Linked DNA regions of Homo sapiens: region 2 is linked to region 1. Evidence: fine-mapped expression QTL. Tissue or cell type: whole blood. Region 1 holds a variant in brackets; the other region holds the start of a gene. All regions are shown on one strand. Distances are between the middles of the regions.

Region 1 (7,939 bases):
GGTGATGCCAAAGACGCAGAAACACATGGGAAAGGTGACTGCCATTTCTGGGCTCTAAAAGAGCCTATAAAATAAATATGCAAATCAAAATTTTATGCCATCTTGATGGTTGGAAAACTGGCTATATAACAGTTTGGCTCTAAGAATCAAGTGGTGCAGGGAGAGAGAGTGCAGAACCGACGTACTCGGTAGGGGAGTAAAGAGCCAGGAAGCAGGAGGAGGGAAAGAACAGTTGGCAGGGCAGTGGAGGTGAAGAGGTGGGGACGGGATAAAGCCCAGGGTAGCTCCCTTAGCTTTGGTTACAATTCAACAAAGGAACAAAAGGAGACTACAAAGCTCCCTTTACAGCTGCACTCTGGCCAGCTTTGGCCAACTTGCAACTCAATTCAGAGGAACATCTCAGCAAAGGGCTCATTTTCATCACAAACATCTACTACAGTTGTACTGGAGTCTTATCCTTGGATGATGTAAAATGAGAAGTTACAGGGCCCAGTGTGACCCTGAGCCGGGGGCAATCACTGTGGGCTGTCTAGTCATTTTAAGTCAACATTGCTAGATTAAGCAACCAGGATGACCAAACCTGGGAATAATGAACAGCTTTATCATGTTGGCATGTGAAATGGTCAAATCCGTGGCTGGAATATTTTCAAGGCAATGTGTACCCAATTAAGATCCGGGGTGTGGTGGCTCATGCCTGTAATTCCAGCACTTTGGGAGGCCGAGGCGGGCAGATCATCTGAGGTCAGGATTCAATTAAGATCAATAAATGACAAATGGGATGCTTTTATTTTTGCTTTGCTTTTTTTTGTTTTGTTTTGAGACAGGGTCTCCCTCTGTCGCCCAGGCTGGAGTGCAGTGGCGTGATCTCAGCTCATTGCAGCCTCCACCTCCAGGGTTGAAACTATTCTCCTGCCTCAGCCTCCTGAGTAGCTGGGATTACAGGCGCCCACCACCACGCCCGGCTAACTTTTGTAATTTTTTAGTAGAGACGGGGTTTCACCATGTTGGCCAGGCTGGTCTTGAGCTCCTGATCTCAAGTTATCCACCTACCTCGGCCTCCCAAAGTACTGAGATTACAGGCGTGAGCCACCGTGCCTGGTCTATTTTTGCTCTTTTCTTTGCTAACATGTTACACCAGCTCAGCTTCATAGCTGTAAACATGCAGCTGCCAAGGTAGGTTCCAGGCTGCGCACCTTCTTCCTGACGCTGCTGCATGAGCTGGCGGGGTGGGTGATGAAGAGTTACTAAAACATGAAGTGGCTCCTCTACGAGGGGAGAAAGGGCTGGAAACTCCACCAAGGCTCAGAAGTTACCCCAGGGGTTCAGATGGGGCTCACGGGATTCAGAGAGAACCAGACTACTTCCTCTTCCCCTATTCAGGGAGGTTGAAGTCCTGATTGCATCACCCTGGCCTGCCCCAGTTCCAAGAACTGGGGTTAGCAGCTCCAGCCCCTTGATATGCAAATCATGCAGTCCCACTGCTGATAAATTGTTCTACCCAGGGGAGGGCTAATACTGTCCTGCCCAGCTGGCAGTTTATCTTGGTGCTTCCTGCCAACCCCACAAAGGTGGAAAAATAGAATTCGCTTTCATAGAAGAACCTCACTGAACTGAGCTAAAAGTAGGGACTCTGGAGTTAAACTGCTTGATCCAAATCCTAACCCCACTGCTTTAGTTGTGTGAATTTAGACAAGTGACTTAATCTCTTGTACTTCACTTTCCCCCATCTGTACAATGAAACTGAGAGTACCCACCTCATGGGGGGTATTGAATAAGTAAATACACTTAAAGTATTTAGAACAGGGCTTCACATGTAATAAACATGCAACATGTTAGCCATTAAGTGAAAGCAACTTTGGCAGTCAAAGGCTGACCCACATCCCAAAGCAAAGGCTTGAAGTTATTGTCCTTTCAAACACTCAAGGCCATGTGTCTAATTCAGTTAGGTCACCGTGGAATAGCTTGGGAGAGCAGGAGCAAATGGGTGTGGGATGAGGACTGGCTGGGAAGGACAGTGGGATGATAAGGCCTGACGATGTCTTAAGATGGACCTGAGGGAGTGAAAGGTCCCAATGTGACCTCGTCTTGACCTCCATGCTGCCCACTGTGCTGAGGGAACCCAGCAGCCCCAGTGGACTCTGGCCCAGTTGCCTGAATGGCTCGCTACCTGCTCTGTGCCAGCCTTCTTCAGGAAGTGTGGGCAAGACAGCCTTGTGATCCCTTGGAAGGGGATGCCAGGTCTAGCAGAACTGAAGAAAGATGTGAAGTAGAATTGTAACCAGGAATTGAAGACTCATTTGAGCTTTAGGTAAATATCCTGTGTATCTTCTCTCTTCTCAGATATAAACATTAGCTATTGAATAACCTGATAGGCATGGAATAAATAGCCTCAAAAGAATGGACTCAACCCAAACTGGGGAACCCAGGTAGTGGGCTTGAGAAGCAATTGTGAAGAAGGAAGCTGCTGAGTGATCACAGACTTACCAAAGACAGTGTTTTGGCTCTGCGTGGCTATGATAATGAGTTTTGTGAATGAAACAGGAGGCATGCTTTATTTTTCGTGGTTGTTTACCAGAGTGGAGTGAACCATAACAAAAAGTTAATCAATCCCACAGAGCAATAGAAGACCCAAAGTGGAGGAGCTATGAAGGCCAAAAAAGTCCCAAAGTCAGAATGATCCTTCCCTTTCCCAGACTACAGCATCAAAGATTTAGACCCTAGAGCTGGATCTACTCTTTACCAAGCCTGAACCCTTTGGGAAACCAATGAACTCAACTTCTCTGAGCCTCTCTTGCCATTTGTAGTATGTACTGCAGTACTCACACTATCATCAGTGGGAATAGTGGGCACGTCATGAAGATCTAGTGGCATGATGTGGGTGAGAGTGATGACTATGAGTGGTAAGTGCTACACAAATGGAAAGGGAAGTTCCTAGCTACTCTATTCATTCAAAAGTAAGTGTTCGCATTGGAATGCAAAAAAAAGAACCTATGACAGAGAAGAGACTGTCAGTACTAGCCAGCTACTCCTCAGCTGCTCTATAATTCCCCTATCCCGTCTGTAGTTAGAGGGAAGCCATGTTTTAGCCAGTCATTGTGAGAAGAGGTGAGGTGTGTCCCTCCTAGGAGAGGCAGGCAGGCAGCCGGCGCCCCCTCCATGTCTCTTCCTTGCTCTGGAGACTTTGGAAAGCTACATTTTCCAGATAGTGTAGTTATAAGATGGAGGAAGATTGTTGAACTTACATGCTACTTTATGTGAATGAGAAATAAACATTTATGGTGTCTAGCCCCTGAGATCTTGAGGGTTGGTCTGTTACAGCTATGCTTAGCAGTCATCACCCTCATTCAGGACAGAAGTTTTGGTCAGTAAGAGACAGGCCACATCTACTTCAGAGAATCACAGAAGAACTTACATCAACCTCTCCTCTCAGGAATTTTCTGTGAGTTGAGTTCTACCCATTCTGCTCAAGGTTTTATTTTGATTGGAAATCTACTGTCTTAGTGGGAAGGAGACAAATCATTCTAGTCAAAACACTTCCTTTTGCTACAAAATGCATTTATTTCCAGTCAGACAAAATTCTTGAACTGTA[T/C]ATTCGGGTACATATTATAAGGTCATCTTTGATATATGCCCTGTTTACAAGATCCATTTCTAATTATTAAAGTGAATATCAAACACACATCTTTGCATCTTAAAACATAAATAAACTGCTAATGTTTATAAGCCACAAATCTGGTCACTGACATGAGTGGCCTGCAATTCTTCAGTGATGAGCACACGGCGATACAGACAAGATCAGATTACCCAGGTAGGCAGGCAGCAGGCACCTGTAATTCACCCGCTGACTGTGCTGTTGTGGCAGTGACCCTTCTTGTGAAAAAAGAGTTATGTGCAGACAAAAGTGTGACATATGCAACGTGGAGAGGCATTTCACAGAATGCAAACACCATTCAGGTAAATTAGTAGACTCCAGAATGAATGAAAGCTTCATGAATGCAAACCTGTTGTTTACAATACTGGGCATTGTGGCACCTTTTCACTGGACAGTTTAATAAATATCTATTAAAGAAAGTAAGGATAAGAGAAGAAGCTGAAGCAGTCGTCTTGGTGCACAACATATTTTCAAGATTGGGCTTTAGGTTGTGAGTTTCAGAGATACCATTGTTTGTTTCTTCAGAGTAAATCATTCTATTTGGAAAGCCCTTCATTTCCTTAAAAAGACCTTTAAATTCTTCATTAGCATTAAGAGACTTCTTGTAGACTGCCAGGAATTGGGGTTCATTGGCTTAAAGAAGAGCACAGCACAGTTGACAGAACGTCTTGGTTTGTCTCTTGAATTAAGAAGCCTGATTGGCTCAGAATTTCTCAGATCTACTTTATTCTTCACACTTTCCCTCCTTTTGGCTCCTGTTAACATCCCAAGCCCACAGAGACAGACGCTCATAGGTGGAGCGGTATACTTCATAAAATCTCATTTCATTATCAACTATTTCTAGTGCCATGGCTCCCTCTGGACTCTAAATAGTTGATATCTGAAAGTTCCATCCTTCACAGAGTTCTTCACTTGCTCCTTGAAGGTAAGGTTCTTGTTCTAAGGCTGATGCTGGGAAGGTCCCATAGAGGAAATTCCTGGAGAATCTCTATTCCCTTTGGGTTCTCGTGCCCTCTCTCTCACTCCCCATAAGGCTATGGTTGCAATTCTGGAGACACATAGGAAAAGTTTCTAAACTCATCCTGGTTAATCATTGGAAGATGTCCCTCATCAATTGGAGTTAAAACTGGCTCTTCCTTTATGAAGTCAGGGTCAAAATTACTGACATCTTCTCGGGATTTCTGCCAAAAAAAAAAGGGAAACAAGGGTGAGATTTTTGCGCTTGAGGCTTACTCATCTTGCATGGGATATAGCCCATTCCAGTGAGTTCAGAGGAGTGCTCTGTAGCTTGTTCAGTAGCATTATTTACAGTTATTGTTATGATGAAACTGTGCTTTACAGCAAGTCTACTGCATGGTGCATTATTATGGCATTTGGCAACCACCAATTCACTAATCCCATGAAAATCTTGCTGAGCAGGCCTGTCTTAATGGGAGGCTAAGAATTAATTTGGTCATCCAAAAGCAGCTGGCTCACTCACCCTTTATTCTCATTTCACCAAGGTGGCATTTCACAGCAGGCCTCGCTGAGGGGTGTGCAGCTGTATTTGTCAACAGAGGTTGGGTAGGTTCACACTTGTCCTACCTATTGTTTGCGCAGAGTTCTAGACATTTGAAGAGATCTTCCCAAAAGATTTCTTGCAAGTGCTGAGCTTAGGGAACAACTGTTGGTCATTTTACTCTCTAGGTAGATGCGTTACGCCCTGCTGGACCAGCTGTGCAGTTAGGACTACAGGCTCCAGCCTCTGAAGGCCATGCTCTCCCTAATCCCAGGGGCGCTGGCAGGGGGCTGACCATTGAAGGAACGGCTTTACCTCTGGGTGCCTGGTGTCCAACAGCCTAGTAGGCTGTTAGTGATTAAGTGCACTGTATGTTTTTAAAAGTTGAGTATTTTATATCTGTATAAACAAACGCTGCAAAGATCATTTCTAAGTGAGTATCACACATCTCACTGCTCTTACCTTAATCAATGATATTTCTCTATCACTTTTTTTTTTTTTTTTTTGAGACAAAGTCTAACTCAGTTGCCCAGGCTGGAGCGCATGACGCAATCTCGGCTCACTGCAATCTCCACCTCCTAGGTTCAAGCAATCCTTCTACTTCAGCCTCCTGAGTAGCAGGGATTAGAGGTGTGCATCACCACACCAGGCTTTTTTTTTTTGTATTTTTAGTAGAGATGGGGTTTTGCCATGTTGGCCAGGCTAGTCTCAAACTCCTGACCTCAAGTGATCCATCTGCCTCGGCCTCCCAAAGTGCTGGGATTATAGGCATGAGCCACCACGCCAGGTCTCCCCATCACTCTTGATCTATCGCTAGCCTTGCTTCTCTGCCTTCCTCCTGTGGAGCTCTTGACCCACAGATGAGCACGAGCTCAGCTCTCAGACCACAAGCGGGACCACGCTCAGGAAGGCCACCAGCCTCAGCTGCAGAGCTTGGAGAGGAGCCCCTGGAGATCCCAGTATTTCTTTGGTCAAAGAAGCCTGGCCTGGCCTGGGCTCTGCACTGCAGCAGCTATTACAGACCCAGGCTCTCCAAGCCAAGAGGCCAGGCTCAGTGAAGTGAGCAACATCTCCTACCCACTCTGCTTTCTCAGGGGCTTAGAAAAGGCACAAAAAGTGCCCCAAGGAGCATGAGGAAATTGGCCAGAACAATGACTTTCTCAATTAGCCAAACTCTTTTGGGGAAACCTGGAAAGTTTCAGGCCTCTTATACCCTACAAGATTTTAATTTAGGTTGAGAGAAGTTGGAGATTGGGTAAACGAGGGGTGAAACTTGGTAAGAATTAATGTGGGCACATGAAGACATTGTTGTCCCATGGACAAGGAGCCCAGATTCCCCCCAGGGGAGGCTGCCCTGTGCAGTATCCAGCTGAATTTCTGGTCTGTCACCCACAGGGGCCATCCAGCTCTTCTACGGACTTTGGTGGAATGCTGTGACATCTGAAGAAAGGAATGTCTCTGTGACAGCCTGGGACACTTACGATTCTGGGTCTGAAAGGCGGTTCTATTTGGCGATGGTTCAGCTGGGCCCAGTCGATTTCCTTAAAAAAAGGATGTCTCAAGATGGCGTGCTCGCCTCCCTGAGTCAGGCTGCCCAAGCGCATGGTGGGGTTCTTGGTCATGAACTGAGTGAGAGAGAGAGAAAGTGTCAATCATTCATTCACATACAACCAGCACGTCACAAGACAGCAGGCATCAGCCATGGCAGAGGAGCTGTGCGAGACTTTCTGGCAGGTCTTGCTTAACTAGCTGGGTTTTCCATCACAGGCAGCACAGTCAGTATGAATCATGCCTTAAAGGCGCGATTGCCTGTGTGGATTTATGGCTTTTCCCACTTCCATTTCAGACATGGCCACTAAAAGAAAGCAGGAGGGTCCAGTTTTCTTTTCTGTAAACACCATGTATTTTTCTTTCCTCTTTAAAGAAAAGAAGCTCTTTATAACAGTGTGCCTTTCCCCAACACTGCAGTTGTGGGCAGCAGACATCTTATGAATGGGGCTACTTTCAGAAACAGCTGTGCCATTTTTCTGAGTGACCTGACCAGCTGGCCAGGATTCCTGCTCTCTGACGAGACCACAGAGAGGAGAGAGAGTCGTTATTTTTGAAGATCTGTGTGAAGAAGCAGCAAAGGTGACATACTGAAAAGGTCTGTGTCCTGGCTCTAGAAAAAACAAAGTTGGCCACTTTTCTTTATGCAGCGAAGATATCATAGCTCTAGATGAAAGGCTTTTCTTCAAGATGTTCCCCCCACCACTGCTGTTTCGAAGTAGGTTCAATGACTGAGATTCCATTGCTCCATAGACCAAAAACTAAAACGAGCGCTGCCACACAGCTAAGCGATGTGTGCATAGAGATTCTCTGTATTTCCATCAGTTGGGAAACTTCCTTAGTGCTGGGCTCCTATCAAAATATGCTGGGCTAAATCTGCTTTCACAAAATAGCCAGGAAAGGTGTTTTGATCACTTCCTGAGCAAGGATTAGTACAGGATAATTCACTTTTCATGGCCGGAGTGTGGTTCTCAATTTCAAAGACACTGAAGCTAATTTAATTTCCCATATTGAAAGAAAATTGCCTTGGATAAAAAGTTTTGTTTTTGTTTTTATTTAAATCAGGTTATCTTTAAATAGACTCATGACAGTCCCCAAGCACCTCTTTCCAAATCTGATTTGTGAACAACACAAAAGTAATGCTGTGTTTATAAAAATTGTTTTGGAGCTGAATTTACAGAGAAAATCTTGTTGAAGGTGCAGACACGGAAAGACAGTGTTTGGAGGTACCTCCCACTGCCATG
Region 2 (6,380 bases), 230 kb after region 1:
CTAGACTCTCTTCTATTCATTCCACTGATCTGTATGACTCTCTTTATTCCAATATCACATTATCTTGATTACGGTCATGTTACAGTTAGCCTTGAAATCAGATACTCTAAGTCCCCCAACTTGTTCTTTTTCAAAACTATTCTTAGACTGGTCTCAGTACTTTACATTTCCATATAAATTTTAAAGTCAGTCTGTCAATTTCTACAACAAACTTAGATTTTGACTGAGATTATACTGAACCTATTGAATACTTTGGGAAGAATTGAGATCTTAACCATATTGAATCCTCTCATCCATAACCTACAGCTAAGAGCTTCTCTGGATCTAGCAAAAACTAAGTCACTAGGTTTTGGGGGTTTTTTGAACCTGCAACTTCAATAGTTTTTTTTTAAGTCAGTAATCTGTAGTTCCACTTGCAACCATAAATTTATTATGGAGTAAATTCAATTATTCCACATTTAACTCTCTGAATAAACTACATGTCAATTTAAAATACTAAAGATAAATAAGTATTTCTTTAATCCTGAACTTCAAAAGCACCTTTGGGCCAGATGCAGTGGCTCACACCTGTAATCCCAGCACTTTGGGAGGTTGAAGTGGGAGGATGGCTTGAGGCCACAAGTTCAAGACCAGCCTGGTCAACAAGGTAGCAAGACCCCATCTCTATTTTTTTAAAGCATTTTTGAACCTATAAAGGATACTTTTTTAAAAAAGCATGCATTCCATATATTTCCAAATTTTTTTAACAAGATTTTCTTTAAAAAGAAAAGAAACAACACTCTGCCCAACCTATGTTCCATATCCTTACAGTTCTGAAATACCCAAAACCTTTTTAAAAAAAACAACAAAAAAAAAATCTGCCTTCTGATGCATGCAAACGCATGAAAAACTGCTGGTTTCAAGGTCATTTAAATGCTGACCCTCCCTACCAACCACTCAACGTTTTCCAAAACACCACCAGTGGGTTATATTAAACATCTAAGTGTAATTATTTCAGACCATTATAAATATCGATATCTGATTTACACTGAATATTCATCCAGTGGAACAATAAGCAGCTCTGTACATGCCACCTAGTCAGATAACGTGGATCTTCCTACACTTATGACACCAAGAAGTCCTCATCTTTTGGTCTTCATGTAGGCTGCAGGTTCTCCACCTCGACTGCATACTGGAATCACCTGGTGAGCCTAAAAGTACGGATGATGGGGTCCCACAGCCAGAGATTCCTATCTAGAATCTTTAAAAGTGGGGATTTTTTAAAGGTCCCTGGGTGATTCAAGTGGGAAGATTATGGTTGAGAAGGACGAGTCTAGGCTATCTCCAGGAAGAGATGCTTCTCATGGCCACTGGCCAATCTGCACCACCATAATTCAGAACCTAGTTCCTCTAGAGCTTTGCCCGACCTAACTCCTAATCAGACACTAATAGAACTCAACAATTCCATCTGGATGCCTACACTCACTTCTATTTCATTTCCAGAAATTCACAGGATAAATGTAAATATCTAACTGTATTTTAGCAATTCCTCTCTAGTCCCCACTTCTAAGTACCACAAAGTAAATTAGGCTGAAGGGAAATTAACTCAATATAATTTGACGATTAAGGTTAGTCATTATGGTTTTTGTACTTCTATTTAAAAGAAAGGAATAGCTCCACAAGCCATCTTTAATTTTAGAAAATATACGGTAAAATTACTAATTCCACAAAGTATAAAATAAATACCTAAATGAGCCTTCATCACCATCCATCTGATTTCACCACTTGTAAATTTCAAACATTTTCAATACTGATATTGGGTTCAAAACTGACTCCCTCCAGAACTTAAACTATTAAACTCCTGAGAGTCTTCAAATGGCGTACTCCACTTTGCCAAACCAGACTACTTTATTATAATTATCATTCCATCATCTCAAAGTGGGAACGATGACACCTGCATCACAAAGACAGTGTGAGGATTAGGCAGTAAAAGCATGTTAGCACCGTGTAGAGCGCTCTAGAAGTTTTAATTGATTTACAGCAGAAATTATGCCTCCTGGGAACTATGTGAAAAGCAGAGGCAAGGGGAGAGCTGCGGGTAGCTACACGTCAATACCCAGGAACACAGGCTGGTGATGGGGGGAGGGAAGACAGTTAACAACCTCCTGAGGAGTCCTTACAGCCTCTTCTCAGACCCATAGCAGCAGAAACCCACACTGCAGGACTCCCACCTCGGACTGACTAAGTTACTTGCAAGTATATGTAAATCTCATCTCCTTGGAAAAATGCTAAATAATAAAACTGCCAACGTGCAGACCCAGGCGCTCATTTCCCTGCCAGTGTAGCTCATGTACCTCTGGGATGTGCAAGCCGAAACACGTGTGCACGTCTGAGCGGCTGAACCAACATGTATCCATAAACATTATGAATAATACTCGCGAGAATGTACGGCTTTCTCCTAAGTAGCGCTTGAAGCACTTTACCCAAATCAAGTCCCTTTTGTATCACTCCTTCCCTGCCTTTCCTACCTATCACTCTCGTGCTGAAAGTTGGAGCTCCTTACCCAAAGACTGGGCGGAAAGGGTGACCGCCCTGGACCCCTGCCCGACTTCCCGTTAGGCCAAGCCGCTGTCCTGAAAGGGGATCGTGTCCAGGCCGGCTTCCTGGAGACACACCTGCGCCTGCACACACCCACCGCGGTCGCGTCACCAGTGCCGCGGCCACGTGGACGAAGACCAAAGTCTGGAGGGAATTCCCTCAGCCACAAAGCGATGGGAAAGCGGGACCCGGGTGAGTTTTGAAAAACATAAGGGGAACGGGGGTTGGGTGGACACAAAGGGAAGGGGTCACCGCTACTCACCCAACCCTCGAAGGTGTCCGAGGCGCCGGTCGTGCGCAGCAGCTCCTGGAACTGCAGGGTGCAGTTGGCCACGAAGTGGTCGTAGCCCAGGGGCGTCTCGTGGAAGACGGCCAACTCGAGGTGGCCGCCGTCGGTGACGTTAGCGCAAAACTCCTCGTTGTACGTGGGTTTGTTGGTCTTCTGCTTGGTGCTGGTCTGGCCCACGCGCACCTGGTCCACGCTCACCGTCAGATAGGGGTCCAGCAGCTGGTGGCCCTTCTTGAAGAGCGAGTGGCGCAGGGACCAGCGGGTGGGCTGCAGCCCCACTGCCTCACCGATGCGGACCCTCAAATAGCCATTGAACTTCATGGTGCCAGACGACATGCCGGCGCCGCTGCCCCGGCCCCGGGGGGCCGCGCTGCTTCGCAGCGGGAGAACCGGGAGTCCCGTCTCAGGCCAGCCCTCGGGACAGGTGCAGGAGTCGAGGCAGCCCTGGGGAAAGGCAGCGCCTAAGCGCCCCTCGACTGGCCATTCTGCCTCCTCCGTGGGACTTTTCCCTCCCCTCCTTCCCTCCCTCCCGAGGTGGAAAGGAGGGGAGCCCGCCGCCGAGCCCTCAGCGGGCCGGGGAAGCCCGACCGTCCCTTCCAAGCGCGCGGCGCCTCCCGGGGACTCGCGCAGGACTCGCCCCTTCTCCAGGGCCGGGCAGCTCCTCTCCCTGGAGAGCCGGACCTACCCGTCCGGTGAGCCCCAGCCCCAAGCGTCTCTTCCCCCGCCTCCTCTTGCTTCTCCTCCTGCCCCCGCCTCCGAAGGCTCACGCTCTCCCCCACTCGGCGAGCTTCAAACCAGGAAGCAGCTGCCGCCGCCGCATCCCCGGCGAGAACCTCGCACCGCCAGGTTCCAAGTTCACAGAACCCCCGCGTCCGCTCCCGCGCCTTCCGGACCCCAGGGGCGTGGCCCGCGGTCCGCGGCCCGGCCCTGCGGTGGGTGGATCCCCGCGCAAGCCCCCGGGAGGCCAGTGCCCGCTTGCGCCGCCCTGCGCGCCCTCCTTGTAGCGCTGGGTCTGGCCGTGCGCTGCGGGTTAGGGGCCACCCCGGGCGCAGGCCAAAAAGGAAAGGGTTCGTGGCCCAGCCCGAGCAAACACCTGAGGCGTGGTAGACTGACCTGGGGAGCGATGGAAGGTTGGGAGGACGCAGAGGAGGGCGCTCCAGCCAGGAACCCGCGCGGCGAGGAGTCGCCCGCCCCCTCTCTCCCAACCTCCCCGGTGGGCTGGTGACCCTGCAGGGCCATCCCCAAGAGGCCCTGGCCGGAGGCGGGGGCACGGCGGGGAGGTTCTTTTTCCTAATATTTACAGGGATGGCTCATCCCGGGGTCAGCTCGAACGCATCCTGTTTGTGCGCCTTTCCTGCAGAGGCTAATTACACAGTTGTGTGTATGTGTGTGTTTTAATAGGGCAGTAGTAATGATGGAAATCCTGTTCGCCTCCTTCCTCGGAAGGTGTGTCTTGTTGCACATAGAGCAGGAAAGGTCGGTTCTTCTGGAGACAGACATGGCCAAGAGGTAATAAGTCTCTTCCTCTGCGGGTGGTTTCTGGTCCACCCAGCTCTGCGCGGCAAGGGCAGAAAATGTTCACACACACAGGCTGTCCCCAACACACACGCGGAAGAAATTGCCTCTTCTAGGAACACTCCAGCTTGTTGTATTTGCAGTCAGAGTGGGCAGCCTTCTGATGCTTCCCACCCCGTGGTCCCTGCAGATTTTGTCTCCGGGGAGGACCTTTTAGCCTACGCTGCTATGCCGCAAAGCTTGCTCCCTGAGGGCCAGCCACAACCAATTTGTTCCCCAAAAAGCCTAGGCCACTTTTTGTTGTTGTTGTTGTTGTTGTTTTTGAGACGGAGTTTCGCTTTTGTTGCCCAGGCTGGAGTGCAATGGCGCCATCTCGGCTCACCGCAACCTCCGCCTCCCAGGTTCGAGCGATTCACCTGCCCCAGCCTCCCGAGTAGCTGGAATTACAGGCATGCGCCACCACGCCCGGCTAATTTTGTATTTTTAGTAGAGACAGGGTTTCTCCATGTTGGTCAGGCTGGTCTCAAACTCCCGACCTCAAGTGATTCGCCTGCCTCGGCCTCCCAAAGTGCTGAGATTACAGGCGTGAGCCACAGCACCCAGCCAAGCCTAGGCCACTCTTAAGATACTTGATTACATTCTGTCTTGCTATACTGGTTCCCTCGGAGCAGATTCGGCTTGCTTTCATTCCTTTCTTTCTTCCTTCCCTCCTTTCTTTCTTTTATGTTTTAGAGACTGGGTTTTGCTTTGTCATCCAGGCTGGAATACAGCGGTGTGATCATGGCTTACCATAACCTCCAGCTCCCAGGTTCAAGTGATCTTCCAGCCCCTGCCTCCTAAAGTGTTAAGATTACAGGCATGAGCCCCCGTGCCTGGCCCCAGGTTCATCTTTCTAGCCCCCACTCCTCTAAGGCCCTGTTCAGAACTTTCTAATTGAGTAGGTTCTCAACGATTTCACATGAGTGCAAGGAGGCCTGACCCGTAATAACAGCACTATACAGAATGAAAACAAGTAAGGACAATGGGCCAGGGGGGAAAGGGCCTGTCTTGAAAACACCAAAGCTTCCTTAGAGAACAAGGCAGGGATGCAACGCATCACTCTAATGACATCTTAGCTTTAGGCAGGGCTTGTAAAGCCTGCTCCCAAACGTCCAGGGGGCTCCTGTTTGGCCTTAGTGCTCCAGGGGAAGATGTCGCATCTACCCTGTGGGTCAGCTCTGTCACCCTTTCCTCCAAACAGCTGAACTCTAGCTTTAAGAGCCACTAAAGGATTTGCTCCTGTTGGACTTTGGGGCTAAAAGAAAACAGTCCCCATACAGAATCATGGGGTGTAGACTTTAAATTTTTTTTTAAATTTTAAAAAGAAAACAGTCCCCAAATGGTAGGTGGCCACACAGCTGTCCTGGGACTGGGATATGACGATACCAGACACTCCATCTTCACCCTATCAGTACCTATCAGGATTGGCAATGGTGACAGAGCAGTGGGTCAGACAGCCATGGTGCCTGCCCTCCTGGGGCTTACAGTCCCACAAGGAGGAAAAACAACTAATAGAAGAGGGTGCAGTGAAGGAAAAGCCCACGGTGCCAAGGGGTGATGTATTATAACTGGATGGGTGGTCAGGGAAGGGTTCCTTGAAAAAGCAAATAGCAGAGAGATCAGCTCATTGAGAGCTCCTGAGGAGACAGATGGGTTGGCCTGTTTGGGAACCAAAAGCACCCTACGTGGCTGGAGCTGAGGAAGGCGTGGCTGGAGCTGAGGAAGGTGAGGGGAGAGTGGCTGAAATGAGCTTGCAAAGGTGGTCACACTGACCAGACTGGTAGATCACAGGAAAGCCTTGGACATTATCTATGGGCCACTGGACGCCTCTGAAGGCTGTTAAGCAGAGCCAGGGTAAGATGAGGATTTGTGTTTTAAAATACCTCTCTGGGGACAGGCAAGGTGGCTCACACCTATAAACCCAACACTTTGGGAGGCTGAGGCAGGAGTACTGCTTGAG

Evidence for each region. PIP is the estimated chance that this variant, and not a neighbour inherited with it, causes the effect.
Region 2: PRKCH starts here. The variant in region 1 is fine-mapped to the expression of PRKCH in whole blood (TOPMed, PIP above 0.99). The same link has a PIP of 0.9 or more in lung.

What each region holds. Positions count from the first base shown.
Region 1 is chr14:61,546,576-61,554,514 of GRCh38, reverse strand. PRKCH (protein kinase C eta) reads right to left here. Exons shown (of 14, transcript NM_006255.5): 13 at 6,629-6,772; 14 at 3,539-4,830. The coding sequence ends at 4,684. Among named protein-coding and RNA genes, the nearest start is that of PRKCH-AS2, 5.1 kb to the right of the region's middle. RefSeq lists enhancers at 1,642-1,691, 1,586-2,095, 2,096-2,606. The variant T/C (reference allele first, on the strand shown) is at 3,590.
Region 2 is chr14:61,318,924-61,325,303 of GRCh38, reverse strand. It overlaps PRKCH (protein kinase C eta), which reads right to left and starts at 3,725. Exons shown (of 14, transcript NM_006255.5): 1 at 2,840-3,725. The coding sequence starts at 3,202. It overlaps PRKCH-AS1 (PRKCH antisense RNA 1), which reads left to right and starts at 2,486. Exons shown (of 5, transcript NR_186042.1): 1 at 2,486-2,769. RefSeq lists enhancers at 2,293-2,836, 2,837-3,381 and silencers at 3,343-3,512, 3,663-3,932.